2 linked regions of the Homo sapiens genome follow. The protein of the gene in region 2 interacts with the protein of the main gene of each other region in a pairwise test. Each region holds a gene or a part of one and is shown on either strand. Other genes may lie near its edges.

Region 1 (7,036 bases), on a different chromosome or scaffold from region 2:
GATTCCTAACAATCTCCTTAGTATGTACTTACGTAGGCTTTTGTTTTTTTGTCATCTTGTTGAATGCTGTGCCTGTACTTGAAAGGCACACGTGTGCTATCGCACTCCCTCCACCAGTTGGCACACTGGAATGTGAAGAAGAGGATTCTAGCATGATAGGCACTAGAAACCAAAAGCATGTTGCTGCTAGTCATGTGTTGAGTTGAGCACTCTTTCTGAATTGTCAGACTTTATTTTAGAAGCATTACACTTTACCTGTAGTAAAAATATATCGAAATAGAAATATATCAAGATTGTCACTATTTGCATTTCACTAAGACTACAGTCATGGTGAGATTTAGGACTGAGGCTAAACGTTACCAGCCACATGATTGGGAGGGCCATTAAAGTTCTCAGAAGGACACTGACTCTCAAGACTTTTCTAATACTTTGTTCTCTTAAAACTCTGTTGTCTCAGCCCCACACTGTTGACTCTGTTTTTTTGTTTTGTTTTGTTTTGTTTTGTTTTGAGAAGTCTCACTCTTGTCTCCCAGGCTGGAGTACAATGGCACGATCTCGGCTCACTGCAAGCTTCACCTCCCTGGTTCAACTGATTCTCCTGCCTCAGCCTCCCTAGTAGCTGGGATTATAGGCGCCTGCCACCACACCTGGCTGATTTTTGTATTTTTAGTAGAGACAGGGTTTCACCATGTTGGCCAAGCTGGTCTATAACTCCTAACCTTAGGCAATCCACCTGCCTCAGCCTCCCAAAGTGCTGGGGATTACAGGCGTGAGCCACTGCCCCCAGCCAGAAATGGTTGGTTGGTTTGTTTGTTTTGTTTTGTTTGAGACAGAGTCTCGTGAGCCACTGCTCCAGCCAGAAATGAGTTTGTTTGGTTTGGTTTTTTTGAGACTGCAGCCTCCGCCTCCCGGGTTCAAGTGACTCTGCCTCAGCCTCCCGAGTAGCTGGGATTACAGGTGCATGCCACCACTCCTGGGTAATTTTTGTATTTTTAGTAGAGACTAGGTTTCGCCATGTTGGCCAGGCTGGTCTCGAACTTCTGGCCTATAGTGATCCGCCCACCACAGCCTCCCAAAGTTCTGAGATTACAGGCGTGAGAAGCCGTGCCCTACCTAAGACAGAAATGTTTTTAACAAGAGATTTGGAACACAGTTCCTGATTTCCAACATGTATGCTTCAAGACATGGCACGCAGTTTGTGAGCATGGTGTTCCCAGCATTGCAGAGGGGTGTGATCAGTTGTATAATCAGTTCATTTTATTATATGCTCGACAAGGCCATGCTTGAGGCTTTAAATAAAACAAAAAACAAATACCACCCTGTTTATGAGGTTATGAGAACTGTCCTGAGATGATAGCTCTGCTAATGTTTAACCTAAATCCTGCTTGCTACTGTTTAAATCAGTGCCTTTAGTTCAGTTTATGATTGCAAACTGCATTGATAAAGTTTTCAATTGCCATGTACAATAGGTATTCAAATGAGAAAGAATCTCCAGTTTCATGCAAAGAAGATAGCTAAGGGATGAGGGGCCTTTGTTGACTAGAATCAATGTATTCTGAGTACAGGGGGTAGTAATTAATTTACTCTGTTGCCTCATGGGAAAGTTTCAGATGATGGTGTACTTATGGTCTAATTGAAAACGGATGTTAAAAATGTTATTTGCTTTTTAAAAATTATCTTTTAGGCTGGGCACAGTGGCTCACACCTGTAATCCCAGCACTTTGGGAGGCCGAGGTGGGTGGATCACTTGAGGTCAGGAGTTTGAGACCAGCCTGGCCAACGTGGCTAAACCTCATCTCTACTAAAAATACAAAAATTAGCCGGGCATGGTGGCATGTACCTGTAATCCCAGCTACTCGGGAGGCTGAGGCAGAGAGTCACTTAAACCCGGGAGGCAGAGGTTGCAGTGAGCCAAGATCACTCCACTGCACTGCAGCCTGTTCGATAAAGCAAGACGCTGTCTTGAAAAAAAAAAAATTAATCTCATTTATTAAAAACAAAATTGAATGCTTTTTCTCTAGTGCTACACTTCTGGATTAAGCGGTGCTAAGTAGCAAACAGGCTGCATTTAAAGTCTTTTAAATTGTCAGTGGTCTAGTTATTTTTCTTCCAAAAAGCTTGGAGCTCTCTTCTGTGTGTGGTTTTAAAGAAAACAAATCCCACTGGGGGGTATTTTAAGTCTGCCTTTAAAAGAGGGACTTGCTTGATTTGTACCCTGTGATATTCTTTTAGCTAGAAAATTCAGAAGAACATTCACAAACTAAAATTAATTTTTATCTTTTCTGTTCTTCACATGTACATATAATCGTATAAAAAACATTTTATATGACTGATTTTTTTTTTTTTTTACTTTGGCCGTTTCAGGTAACTGGGGAAGAAGCTAAACAAGAATCATTGGAGACTTCTAATCTTGTGCTTTCGGGTATTGGAAGTACACAAACTAATGGACCTTCTGTTCCTAGTGAAGAAGAAATTGTTCAGCCACTGGATAGCACAAGAGTGGCTTCTTACAGTGGCACTGTTACTCAAGCCACATTCACCAGGACTTACGATGGGCCTGGCAGTCAGCCAGTGATATGTCAGAGCTCTGTGTACGGCACCCTTGAAAACAAAGTGGATATTCTTGATGCAGCAGTGCAAACAAAAACAGGTACTTTACAGGACCTTATCCAACATGGCAGCCCCATAAACAATGAATGTCACCCTTCCTTGGAAAGAAAGGATGATAATATGGGGTGTGCAGTGATTAACCCGGAACCAATTACTCTCACCTTTGAAAAAAATGCACATGTACCAATACAGACAGAAGGTGTAAATACTGCTGATGAACGTACAACCTTTAAGAAGGAGTTGATTAAGCAAGTATCACCTGCTGCAAGCCTTAGACATCCTGTATCCACCTCGGAAAATGCACGAACACAAGGCCTGAGGGACATTCCCTCTCTAGTAGTTGCAGGACAGAAGGGCACTAAGTACCTTTGTGCCTCGTCAGTAGGTGGAGAGACACTTGATAAAGCAGTGTGTTCATTACAGAAGGAGACGCCCCTTCCAGTCTCTCTACCATCTGATAAAACAATGGTCATGGAGGCACTATCATTAGCTAAAAGTTCTAGTCATCTATCACCCAGTGAAGAAGTGAGATGCACTCAGGATTTCCTTTCACAGACTCAGAGTCTCCTCGGCCTATCTTCAGAAGGGCTTCTAGAACTGACACAGGTTGAAGTGGACTCATCATCAGCCTCTACCACCTTGGGAAGGCAGTGTTCACTTAACTGCATTTCGTCAGGATGCCACACATCAGGTGACTCTTTAGAACTAAGGAAGAATCACAAGAATGGTCCAAACACTGAAAATATGAATTTGGAAGCGTTTGATTCAGTATTTATCAAACAAACAAGCCTGTCTGTGAGTAGAGAGGTCAGCCTAGAGTTATCAGAGGAAGATTCTGACATTGACTTAGCTCTAACAATATCACCACCTACAAGTCCCAGAGAAGAAATGCCAGCTGGTGAAATAGAGCAATTTGAGGAGGCCCCATTCTCAAATTTAGAACTTCAGGATGTAGCTGAGGAAATAGGTGAACCGGAAGAGGTGGCTCTCACAGAAAGCAGAGAAGTGAGTTCTGCTGACAATGTGTCAGTATATCCCTCAGTGTCAGAAGAACCAGTAGAAAATAAGGAGAGAAAGGGGGATAATTTACAACCAGTTACTTTAATACTTTCTAAAGAAAATTGCACCCTTGAGATTGCAGAGGAAATTAATGTGACCTCTGATTTTCCCTTTGATTCTGTAATTGAAGAAGTATCACCAGCGTCTAGTCCTGAACCTCCAGTACCAGTTAAAGAGACACGACCATATCAGGCTGTGACTCCATGCATTTTAAAACTTCATGGTACACAGTGTGAGAAGAGCAACCAAATCTCCCAATGTGAGTCAGAAGACTTAGGCATAACAGAAAAAGAAAATGTTTTTGTTGGTCCTACCCATCCAGTGGGGCAAGATAACTTTACCCAGGTACAACAAATGCAGGTCTCTGCCGAAATGCCTCTAATATTAACTGATCATCCAGGAAGAACAGGTAGACCAACCCTTCCTGGTAAAGTAACTGAGGAAATTGTCTCAAGTGAGCATGATGAGGGTTTATCTTTCTCAGGAAAGGTGCAGTGCTATGGTAGGGAGTTAAACCAGCCTGCCTCAGCTGCCAAATGCACAGGTGACTTCAGTCCTTCTCCTGAAAAACTGGTAAAATCAGGAAATCCATTGCAGCCAGTTAGTATAGAGAATAGAAATTTGGACTTAAAACATCTTGTCTTGGAGTCCAGTGAACCTCCATTTGGTCCTAGAAATGTTATTGAAAATAAGTCTTTGTCTGACACATTGGTTTCCACAACTGCACCAAGTGGTATAGTGAATGTGTCAGTAAAACAGCAGACTAGCCCTAAAAGCAGTCAGAACCATCTCTTTCCCGGTGATTTGAAAACAGATGAAGGCATTTATCTGCAGGTGAAGTCCTTGACAGCTGCCTCGGTTGATGGAGCTTATTCTACACAGGGATGCATGTGCTCAGTGGTCCCCACGCTTTGTTCTTCCTCAGACAATGCTACATTAACCCATTATGTAAGACCAATAAATGCAGAGCCAGTGTTTCAAGCACAGGAAATACCAGCAGGCAGAATGGCCAGTTTGCTTAAGAATGGTGAGCCTGAAGCTGAGTTACATAAAGAAACCACAGGTCCAGGCACTGCTGGCCCTCAGTCCAACACCACATCTTCTCTAAAAGGTGAACGCAAAGCCATCCACACGCTGCAAGATGTGTCAACATGTGAAACAAAGGAGCTATTGAATGTCGGGGTTTCCTCCCTTTGTGCTGGTCCCTACCAAAATACAGCAGACACCAAGGAAAACCTCAGTAAAGAGCCTTTGGCCTCCTTTGTTTCAGAATCCTTTGATACTTCTGTTTGTGGAATAGCCACAGAGCACGTAGAAATTGAGAACAGTGGGGAGGGGCTCAGGGCTGAGGCTGGTTCTGAAACCCTAGGCAGAGATGGAGAGGTCGGTGTGAATTCCGACATGCACTATGAACTCTCTGGAGATTCTGATCTAGACCTGCTTGGTGATTGTAGAAATCCCAGACTGGATTTGGAGGATTCTTATACTTTAAGAGGTAGTTACACCAGGAAAAAAGATGTTCCCACAGATGGCTATGAGTCGTCGTTGAACTTCCACAACAACAACCAAGAGGACTGGGGCTGCTCTAGCTGGGTTCCAGGCATGGAGACGAGCCTCCCTCCCGGGCACTGGACTGCTGCGGTAAAGAAAGAAGAGAAGTGTGTGCCGCCTTACGTCCAAATCCGAGATCTCCACGGGATCCTCAGGACTTACGCCAACTTCTCTATAACAAAAGAACTCAAAGATACCATGAGAACTTCACACGGCCTGAGGAGGCACCCGAGTTTCAGTGCAAACTGTGGCCTGCCCAGCTCCTGGACAAGCACTTGGCAGGTGGCAGACGACCTCACCCAGAACACTTTAGACCTGGAGTATCTGCGTTTTGCACATAAACTAAAACAGACCATAAAGAATGGGGATTCTCAGCATTCTGCCTCCTCTGCCAATGTCTTTCCAAAGGAGTCACCAACCCAGATCTCCATTGGTGCTTTCCCTTCGACAAAAATCTCTGAGGCCCCATTTCTGCATCCTGCACCTAGGAGCAGAAGCCCCCTTCTGGTAACAGTTGTGGAGTCAGATCCCAGACCACAGGGGCAGCCCAGGAGAGGCTACACAGCCAGCAGTCTGGACAGCTCTTCCTCTTGGAGAGAGAGATGTAGTCATAATAGAGATCTTAGAAATTCTCAAAGAAATCACACTGTTTCATTCCACCTCAACAAACTGAAATACAACAGTACTGTGAAGGAATCTCGGAATGATATTTCACTTATTCTCAATGAGTATGCTGAATTCAACAAGGTGATGAAGAATAGCAACCAATTCATTTTCCAAGACAAAGAGCTAAATGATGTTTCTGGAGAAGCCACTGCTCAAGAGATGTATCTGCCTTTCCCAGGACGGTCAGCCTCCTATGAAGACATAATCATAGACGTGTGCACCAATTTGCACGTCAAACTAAGAAGTGTTGTGAAAGAGGCTTGTAAAAGTACCTTCCTGTTCTACCTTGTCGAAACAGAAGACAAATCATTCTTTGTAAGAACAAAGGTAAAGTGCCAGCCACGTCTTACGTATTATTTTAATTGCTGATTTTAGTTTTAGAAATAATAAATTTAGCATATTAGCCATCAAAAAGAAATCATGGTATGACATAGTATTTAAATTTCACAGCTTAGTCTTTATCTGCATACTAAATGTTTTCCTGCAGGATCTGCCATTTGTACTATATTTGAAAATTAGTATTATGTTCCAGAATTAGGGCAATGACTAATTTTTTTTCACAAAAAGTTACCAGTGTAGACATGCCCATACTTCAAGTGTAAATACAAACACATTCCGATGTTAAAATACAGATTTTTTGAAAAGTGGTTGTAGATTGTCCGTTAGTGTGGGTGGTCAAGTAGGACCTCTTTTGGTTTTGGATATATTTTTAATTTGAATTTGAATGTTAGGATAACTGATGTTACGGTGAGTACATGGAGTACATAGTCCTTAAATTTAAGTAATGGAACCATGGTGAAATTCTGGCATGGGCGGAGCCTGTCTTGATTGAACCTGTCTTGATTCACCATTAACTTCATTGTTTTATCCTCCCAGAATTTATTTCTCTTCTATTTCGGGCATAGACAGTATTTTTAAAAATTTAATTGTTTTTAATTTCAAATTTACATAAAGGTTGCAGAAATAGTACCCTTTACCCAGATACCCCAATATTAACATTTCTGAACCATTTGCAAATGTGTTGCACACACAGTGTCCCATTACCTCTTGATACTTAAATGTGTATTACCTGAGTTCAAGGATCCTCATCTTTTTAACCACAGAACAACCCTGTGCATCAGGAAGTTCATATAATATTAATTAAAGTGAC
Region 2 (7,036 bases):
CTATCCTGGCATTGGGGTGGAGGTGGCCTGATGCTGAGAACCTCTCCCCTTCCAGCAGCCACCAAGGGTGCAGTCACTCCCATGGGCCCTCTACTTTCTGGTCCAGCCAGCTGCCCTGCTCCTGGGAAAGCATCACTCAGGCTCCCTGAAGTCCAGCTCCCTCTCTGGGTTATGGGGCTATGGGGGCCACAGTAGGGGGCTAAGAATGACAAAGAGCAGATCCCATGACCAAAGTTGTGGCACAAGGCGGGGATGGTCTTCCAGTCCCAAGCCCCTAGCCCAGGTGCCCCTCAGGGCAAGTTTCTCATAGACTGAGAAAGAAGAGGGTTAAAAAGAACCCAGATCTGTTCCCCAAATTAAAATCTGGAACTAGGAGACCCCTTCAGAGCTCTAAGGAGGTAGTTTAAGGACAAATAAAAGGCGCACAGAGCAAGGGATAACCTGCAGCTTATCGGGTACACCAAGAGGTTCTGGCTGAGCCTGTGGGCAGTGCCCATGCCATGGGCATCTCCAAAGGGGGTCCTGGGAGACTCAGCAGTGAGGGGAGAACAGCCATTCACAGTCCTCCCTCCCCAGCACCAGGAAGGCTGGGACTATGAAACTGCAGGGCTGGGCAAGACCCAACTCTAGCCCTACCATGGCTCTCCTGAATGCAGGAGGGGATATTGACCACGTGCACCCTGGATTCGCAGACTTGGGGCATCACCACTCCTGCAAGTGCAGGCTGGGAGCCCCTGGGTGAGGCGGGAACTCAAAAGGGCTGACTGGCAAATCTGTCTCACCAAGCATCCCCAAAAAGGCAAAAGCTGGGCCCGGGATCCCGAGCACTGACTCTGCACACATGACTGATGGAGGTGGAAGGGGGTGGGAGGTGGAGGCAGGCTGGCCCCTAATTGCTTGCTCTGACAGCTCAGTCTAAGGAGGGTTGGCTGAGATGGGCTGGGCTGAAACAGTCTGGATATTCACAAAGACCCCAGGGTGCTGGGCTCTGTCGCTGTTAACTAGCGACTGTTTTTTTTAAATTAACTGGCCTCTCTCCCTGGAAAAGCATTCCAATGGAAGCTCCTCACTTAGCTTCATTTTCCCAGCACCAGCCAGTAAAACCCAGTGACCTTGATACGATCCACAAAAAGAAGTGAATTCAGTTACCTCCCTCCCTCTAGGAGTTTTACAGACTAAAGGAATTTTTAAAATCAGATACACTTTGGTAAATACTGACCTTGTCCCCCTCCCACACCCTTCTGCCTTTGACACTTCCATCCAAGAGGAAAACATGATTTGGTTGATTCCAGGAACGAAATTGCCTGGTTTTCCCCCTCCACCCCTGGATGGTCACACAGCTGGCTCCTGGCATGGGCAGAAGTGTGGCTCTCAACAAGGCTGCGGGGAGCAGGTCTGTGTCTATCTCATCTACCCATGTAGATTCCTGGCTCCCTCTGAACACAGCGAGGACTTCTCACCCCTGTCAGGTGTGGCTGGTGGCTCAGACTTTGGGATAACTCTGAGCAGGACTATGGGTCTCAGCTTAGCAGGTCCCCTCCCCTGCTAAAACCACATTGGCAGTGGTAATGAGACTCTGAGTCTTAACTTCCATCCTTTTGGGAATACCCCACAAATTCTAAGCCCCCTTGCTTCCCCTGAGCCCAGGTATGTCATTCCTACACACACTGATCGAGCTTGTGTGTGTGTGTATATGTGTGTGTGTGTGTGTGTTAATGTGACATGCATGTACTGATCCGGAGAAGCCTTTATACCAAGAATAGAGCTGGGATCTCAAGCCCACCCTCCCAAGATCAGACAGCAGAGTGAACCAGGAGGCCACGACAGGCCTTGTGTCAGATGGCAGACGATGCAGCAGGAAGCAGAACCACGGGACGTGGGACATGGGATGCTATGGGCAGCCAGCTGAGGGCTGGGGTCTGAGTTCCTCTGAAAAGCAGAGCCCACCTCTCCCCAGCTGCCCTGACACCTCCCCAGCCAGGGCTGTTGGGCTGGCCTGGATTCCAGGAGCCCCTCCCCAGGCATCTCCCTCCTCCATCACACGGAGACTAGGAGATACGGCAACAGCCATGCACCTTCTCCTCCATCTCCTCTATGGGGGCCTTGAACTTTAAGAGTGGGGGATCTCCGCTGGTGACCGTGTAATATACCGAGGTCCCATTGCTGCTGTACGGTGAAGTTCTGCCTCCGATCAAGGGGGCCTTGCCTTCACTGCTACTCTCGCCCGTCCTGGCCATGCTGCTGCCCAGGTGTGTGCTAAGGAAGGGGTGGCTGAGCAGCTTGGCTGCAGCCCGCTGCCGCTTCAGCTCCAGAAGCGTCTGAGGGCTCTGTTCCTTGTAGCTGCTCCAGGGCGGGGTGGCGTCGGCCACGCCAGGGTTGCCATAGGCCATGCTGTAGTCAGGCACCTCATGCACCTTCCAGACATCCCCGTTGGCCAGCGCATACTGGTAGGCACTGACCGGAGCCCGGAGGCCATTCTCAACAGGCATGTCCAGTTCACCTCGTGGGATCTTGGTAGGAAATTCGGAGAGTAGCACGGGCTTCTCCAGCCTGGGGTTCTGCGAGTGAGAAGGACAACATTACCAGCTGGCTGGAAGATCTGAACCTACTATCCACCTGTCTCTCTGCTGAGGGCATTATTGTTTGGACTTTTCCTCTATCTGTTTTCTCTCCCTGGGTATCGGGGCCAGGGTTTTCCTTTGGGGAACCCCCAATCTATGAATTTCCGTACAGTTGACCGACCCCTGGCCTTGCTCCAGGGCCTGGATCATGACCCAAGGCCTAGCTAGTCAACATATTTCACTACAGGGATTGGCCCAGGGATGAGTTCTTAACTGAAATTGCTTCAGTGAAGCAACCCTGGGACTTTTGCTAGAACAACTGGGAAAGAGAAGTTTCTGTAGGAACTGTGGGTAGTAAGAATGACGTAAGCTGAGGGCTGGGGAGATACTATGTTGAAGGGTCTGCTTGCAAGTAAAGTTGGCATGAAGAAAGGCTAAGAGAGACTGCATCCTGATGACCCATTTGAAGTCCAGGATCCTTCCAGGCTCAGACTTTTCAGTTGCACAAGCCAATAAATTCCTTGTGTGTAAGTCCATTTGAGTTGGGTTTTTCAGTCACTTGTAATCCTTCCTCTGTATATGAAGCATATCTCACAAAGATTCTTACCCAGGGATCCTGTACACCTAATAATCCTTGGATAACAAGAGTTTGAAAAGTAGCTGCTTCCTAAAAACTATAAACTAAAAAATAGATACATGCAACAACATTTAAAGCACAGCAAAAATCACCATGAACAGGGAACAAGGTCAAAAGACACATGAAGAAACTAGGAAAATATTTTCAACATATATTACAGAAAAGAGACTAATTTTCTAAAAGTATAAAGAGCTCTTAAAAGTCCTTTTTTTTTTTTTTTTGAGACGGAGTCTTGCTCTGTCTCTCAGGCTGGAGTGCAGTGGCGCAATCTCTGCTCACCGCAACCTCTGCCTCCCGGGTTCAAGCAATTCTCCTGCCTCAGCCTCCCGAGTAGCTGGGATTACAGGCACGTACCACCACACCCAGCAAATTTTTGTATTTTTGTAGAGATGGGGTTTCACCATGCTGGCCAGGCTGATCTTGAACTCCTGGCCTCAAGTGATCCACACTCCTCAGCTTCCCAAAGTGCTGAGATTGCAGGCATGAGCCACCGCACCCAGCCAAAAGTCAATTTTTAAAAGCCTATCTACCCAATAAAAATAGTAGGCAGGGGATACTAATATGTAGCCCACAGCAAAATATATAGATATACATGGCATTGGAATAATATTCATCCCCACTAATCGTTAATACTATAAAAATTAAAACAACAAAATATCACTTTTGGATATCACACTGACAAATACGTTTAAAGTGTGTTATTACTCAGTGTTGGCAGGGGTATGGGGAAATAAGTGAGAATGTAAATTGCTACAGTCTCTTTGATGGACAGTTTTGCATCATCCTTCACTGAAATTTTTTTCTTTTTTTCCTTTCTTCTCTCCCCAGCTCTTCAGTAAAAAATAAAAACAATAATAATGATAAAAATTTTTAGAAAAGATTGTATACTTTGCACCAGCAAGCCCATTTCACAGATTTTCTCTCTCATTAGTGCAAAGCCTGAAAGTCATCATTGGGCAAGCAGGACACTGTGGCCAGTACTTCTATTGGCATGCTCTGTAGCTGGCAAAAAGAATGAAGGAATTCTCCACAAGCTGGCATGGAAAGATGTCCAAGATATATATATATAATCTAGTTTATAATCTAGTTTTCTAACATATATTTATATATAACATACATATATAAATATATATAAAACGTACATATATAACATATATGTACATATAACATATATATGTATTTATATATAACATACATATATAACATATATAACATATATATGTTATATATATATATGGTAATATGTGATAAGGCAAAGAACACTTTCCATAGTAAGTTTCCATTTATGAGTGTGTATTTCTTCGCTTTCTCCTTTTAGAGTCAGGGCCTCACTATGTTGCACAGGCTGGTCTTGAACTCCTGGTCTCAAATGATTCTCCCACCTCAGCCTCCCAAAGCACTGGGATTACAGGCATGAGCCACCGAGTCCAACCTTTTTTTTTTTTTTAATGGCTCCTTCTGAACTATGCAGGCAGACTGATGCCATGTCATGGAGAGACCGTTTCTTGGTGGTCCTAGTCAGTGCTTCTCAAACTTTGATGTGTATGTGAGTTGCCTAGGGATATTGTTAAAATCCATATTCTGATTCAATAGGTCTGGGTTGGGGCCTGCAATTTGGCACTTCTAAGAATTTCCTGCTGATGCTTAGAGTGGCAAAGATCTGAGACACTGATCCCATCTTGGATGCACATTGGCATCATCTAGACAGTTAAAAAAAAACATGTACAGGCCGAGCGTGGTGGCTCACGCTTATAATCCCAGCACTTTGGGAGGCTATGGTGGATGGATCACTTGAGGTCAGGAGTTCGAGACCGGCCTGGCCAACATGGTGAAACCTTGTGTCTACTAAAAGAAAAACACAAAAATTAGACAGGCGCAGTGACGCAGGCCTCTAATCCTAGCTACTCAGGAGGCTGAGGCAGGATAATTGTTTGAACCAGGAGGCAGAGGTTGCAGTGAGCCAAGATTGCACAACTGCACTCCAGCCTGGGCAATAAAGTGAGACTCCGTCTCAAAAAAAAACCATATAGAACACCAATCTGAAAGCATCACATATTATATAATTCCACGTATATAACATTTTGGAAAAGCAAGACTTATGAAAACAGTAGAAGATCAGTGATTGCTAGAGTTTGGGGAGGAAGCGTAAGTAGAATACCAGGGCTGTTTAGTGGGACAGCCCTGGTCTCTTTCACCAGTTGTTCACAATCTCAACTGTCTAATATAACCACCTAAACCAAGTGGCGAGAGCATTCTGTGTGACACTATCATGACGGACACATGACATTATGCATTTGTCAAAACCCACAGGAGTTACGACACAAAGAGCAAACCCGATGTAAACTATGGGCTTTAGTTCATAATAATGTATCAATATTGGCTCATCAGTGATAACATATGTACCACACTAATGCTAGTTGTTAATAACAGGGGAAACCAGGGTGGAGGGGGGTGTATATGGGAAATATCTGTACTTTCCACTCATTTTTCTAGAGTTCTAAAACTGCTCGGAAAAAAAAAATCTATTAGTTTAAAAAGAAAAAAATCCCTGCTGGGTGCAGTGGCTCATGCCTGTAATCCCAGCACTTTGGTAGGCTGAGGTGGGAGGATGGCTTCAGCCTAAGAGTTGGAGACCAGCCTGGGCAACATAGTGAGACCTCATCACTACCCAAATATTTAAAAATTAGCTGGGCATGGTGGTGCGTGCCTGTGGCTCAGCTACATGGGAGGCTGGGCAGGAGGATCACTTGAGCCCAGGAGGGTGAGGCTGCAGTGAGCCATGTTTGTACCATTGCAGTCTAACCTGAGTGACCCTGTCAGAATGAGACCCTGTCTCAACAAAAGAAAACAAAACCCACCTATATCCATCTCCAGTGTCAGAAATCAGAGCATTGAAGGAAGAGGAATTAACTCCAGCCTGAAGGATGTGGGTTAGACGAAAGAGGTTTTCTCATGATGCAGGGAACTTCTAAATGTACTTATCTGCCTAATGCTTAATGAGGTACAAATTATGGGCTGAGTTCTATACAAATAAGAACACAATTGACCCTAGAACACCCTTTGTGGTAGGCACCATCATCTTGGCAATGTTGAACTGAGATACTGGACAACAGGAAGGTTAAACAAAACCCCCACATTTTGTGTTCTGGGGAATGGCTGACTGCACAGAATCACCCTTCCCCATAGGATTTCCAGAACGCTCAGACGACCCCTCCTTTTCCTAGGACAACCCAAACACAGTCCCCCAAATTCTCATTCTTTTCCTCTGAAATGATTAAACTGTCAATTTATCAACCGAAATTAAATGCTTGCTAAATGATTTTTTTTTTTTTTTGAGATAGAGTCTCACTCTGTTGCCCAGGCTGGAGTGCAGTGGTGCAATCTTGGCTCACTCCAACCTCTGCCTCCCAGGTTCAAGTGATTCTCCTGCCTCAGCCTCCCAAGTAGCTGGCATTACAGGCACCTGCCACCACGCCTGGCTATTTTTAGTAGAGACAGGGTTTCGCCATGTTGGCCAGGCTGGTCTCAAACTCCTGACCTCAGATGATCCGCCTGCCTGGGCCTCTCAAAGTGCTGGGATTACAGGCGTGAGCCACTGCGCCCAGCGGTAAATGATTTAACCAAATTTTAGTTAAGCTGCTCCCCTCCCCACAGGATCCTGGACTTTGACTCACCCTGAGGGTAAACAAGCACTGCAATGCAGAAAAACTCTCCTGAAGACCGTTCTGGAAATGGGCTGACCACCAGACACACATTCCTGGTCAACTGTCCAATTACACCACCTGCTCATCCCACCCCCAACCCTCAGTCCTTGCAGCCTCTGTCTTCCTCCCTAGGA

The links.
Region 1: the proteins of PPP1R16B (region 2) and TASOR2 interact in binary tests that used the Homo sapiens proteins (3 or more experiments, as listed by UniProt).

Annotation. Positions count from the first base shown.
Region 1 is NC_000010.11:5,743,815-5,750,850, forward strand, and holds part of TASOR2 (protein TASOR 2), read left to right. Parts: intron 1-2,364; coding exon 2,365-6,213; intron 6,214-7,036.
Region 2 is NC_000020.11:38,913,679-38,920,714, reverse strand, and holds part of PPP1R16B (protein phosphatase 1 regulatory inhibitor subunit 16B isoform 1 precursor), read right to left. Parts: intron 2,559-7,036; coding exon 2,049-2,558; 3' UTR 1-2,048. UniProt on the Homo sapiens protein: Regulator of protein phosphatase 1 (PP1) that acts as a positive regulator of pulmonary endothelial cell (EC) barrier function. Involved in the regulation of the PI3K/AKT signaling pathway, angiogenesis and endothelial cell proliferation.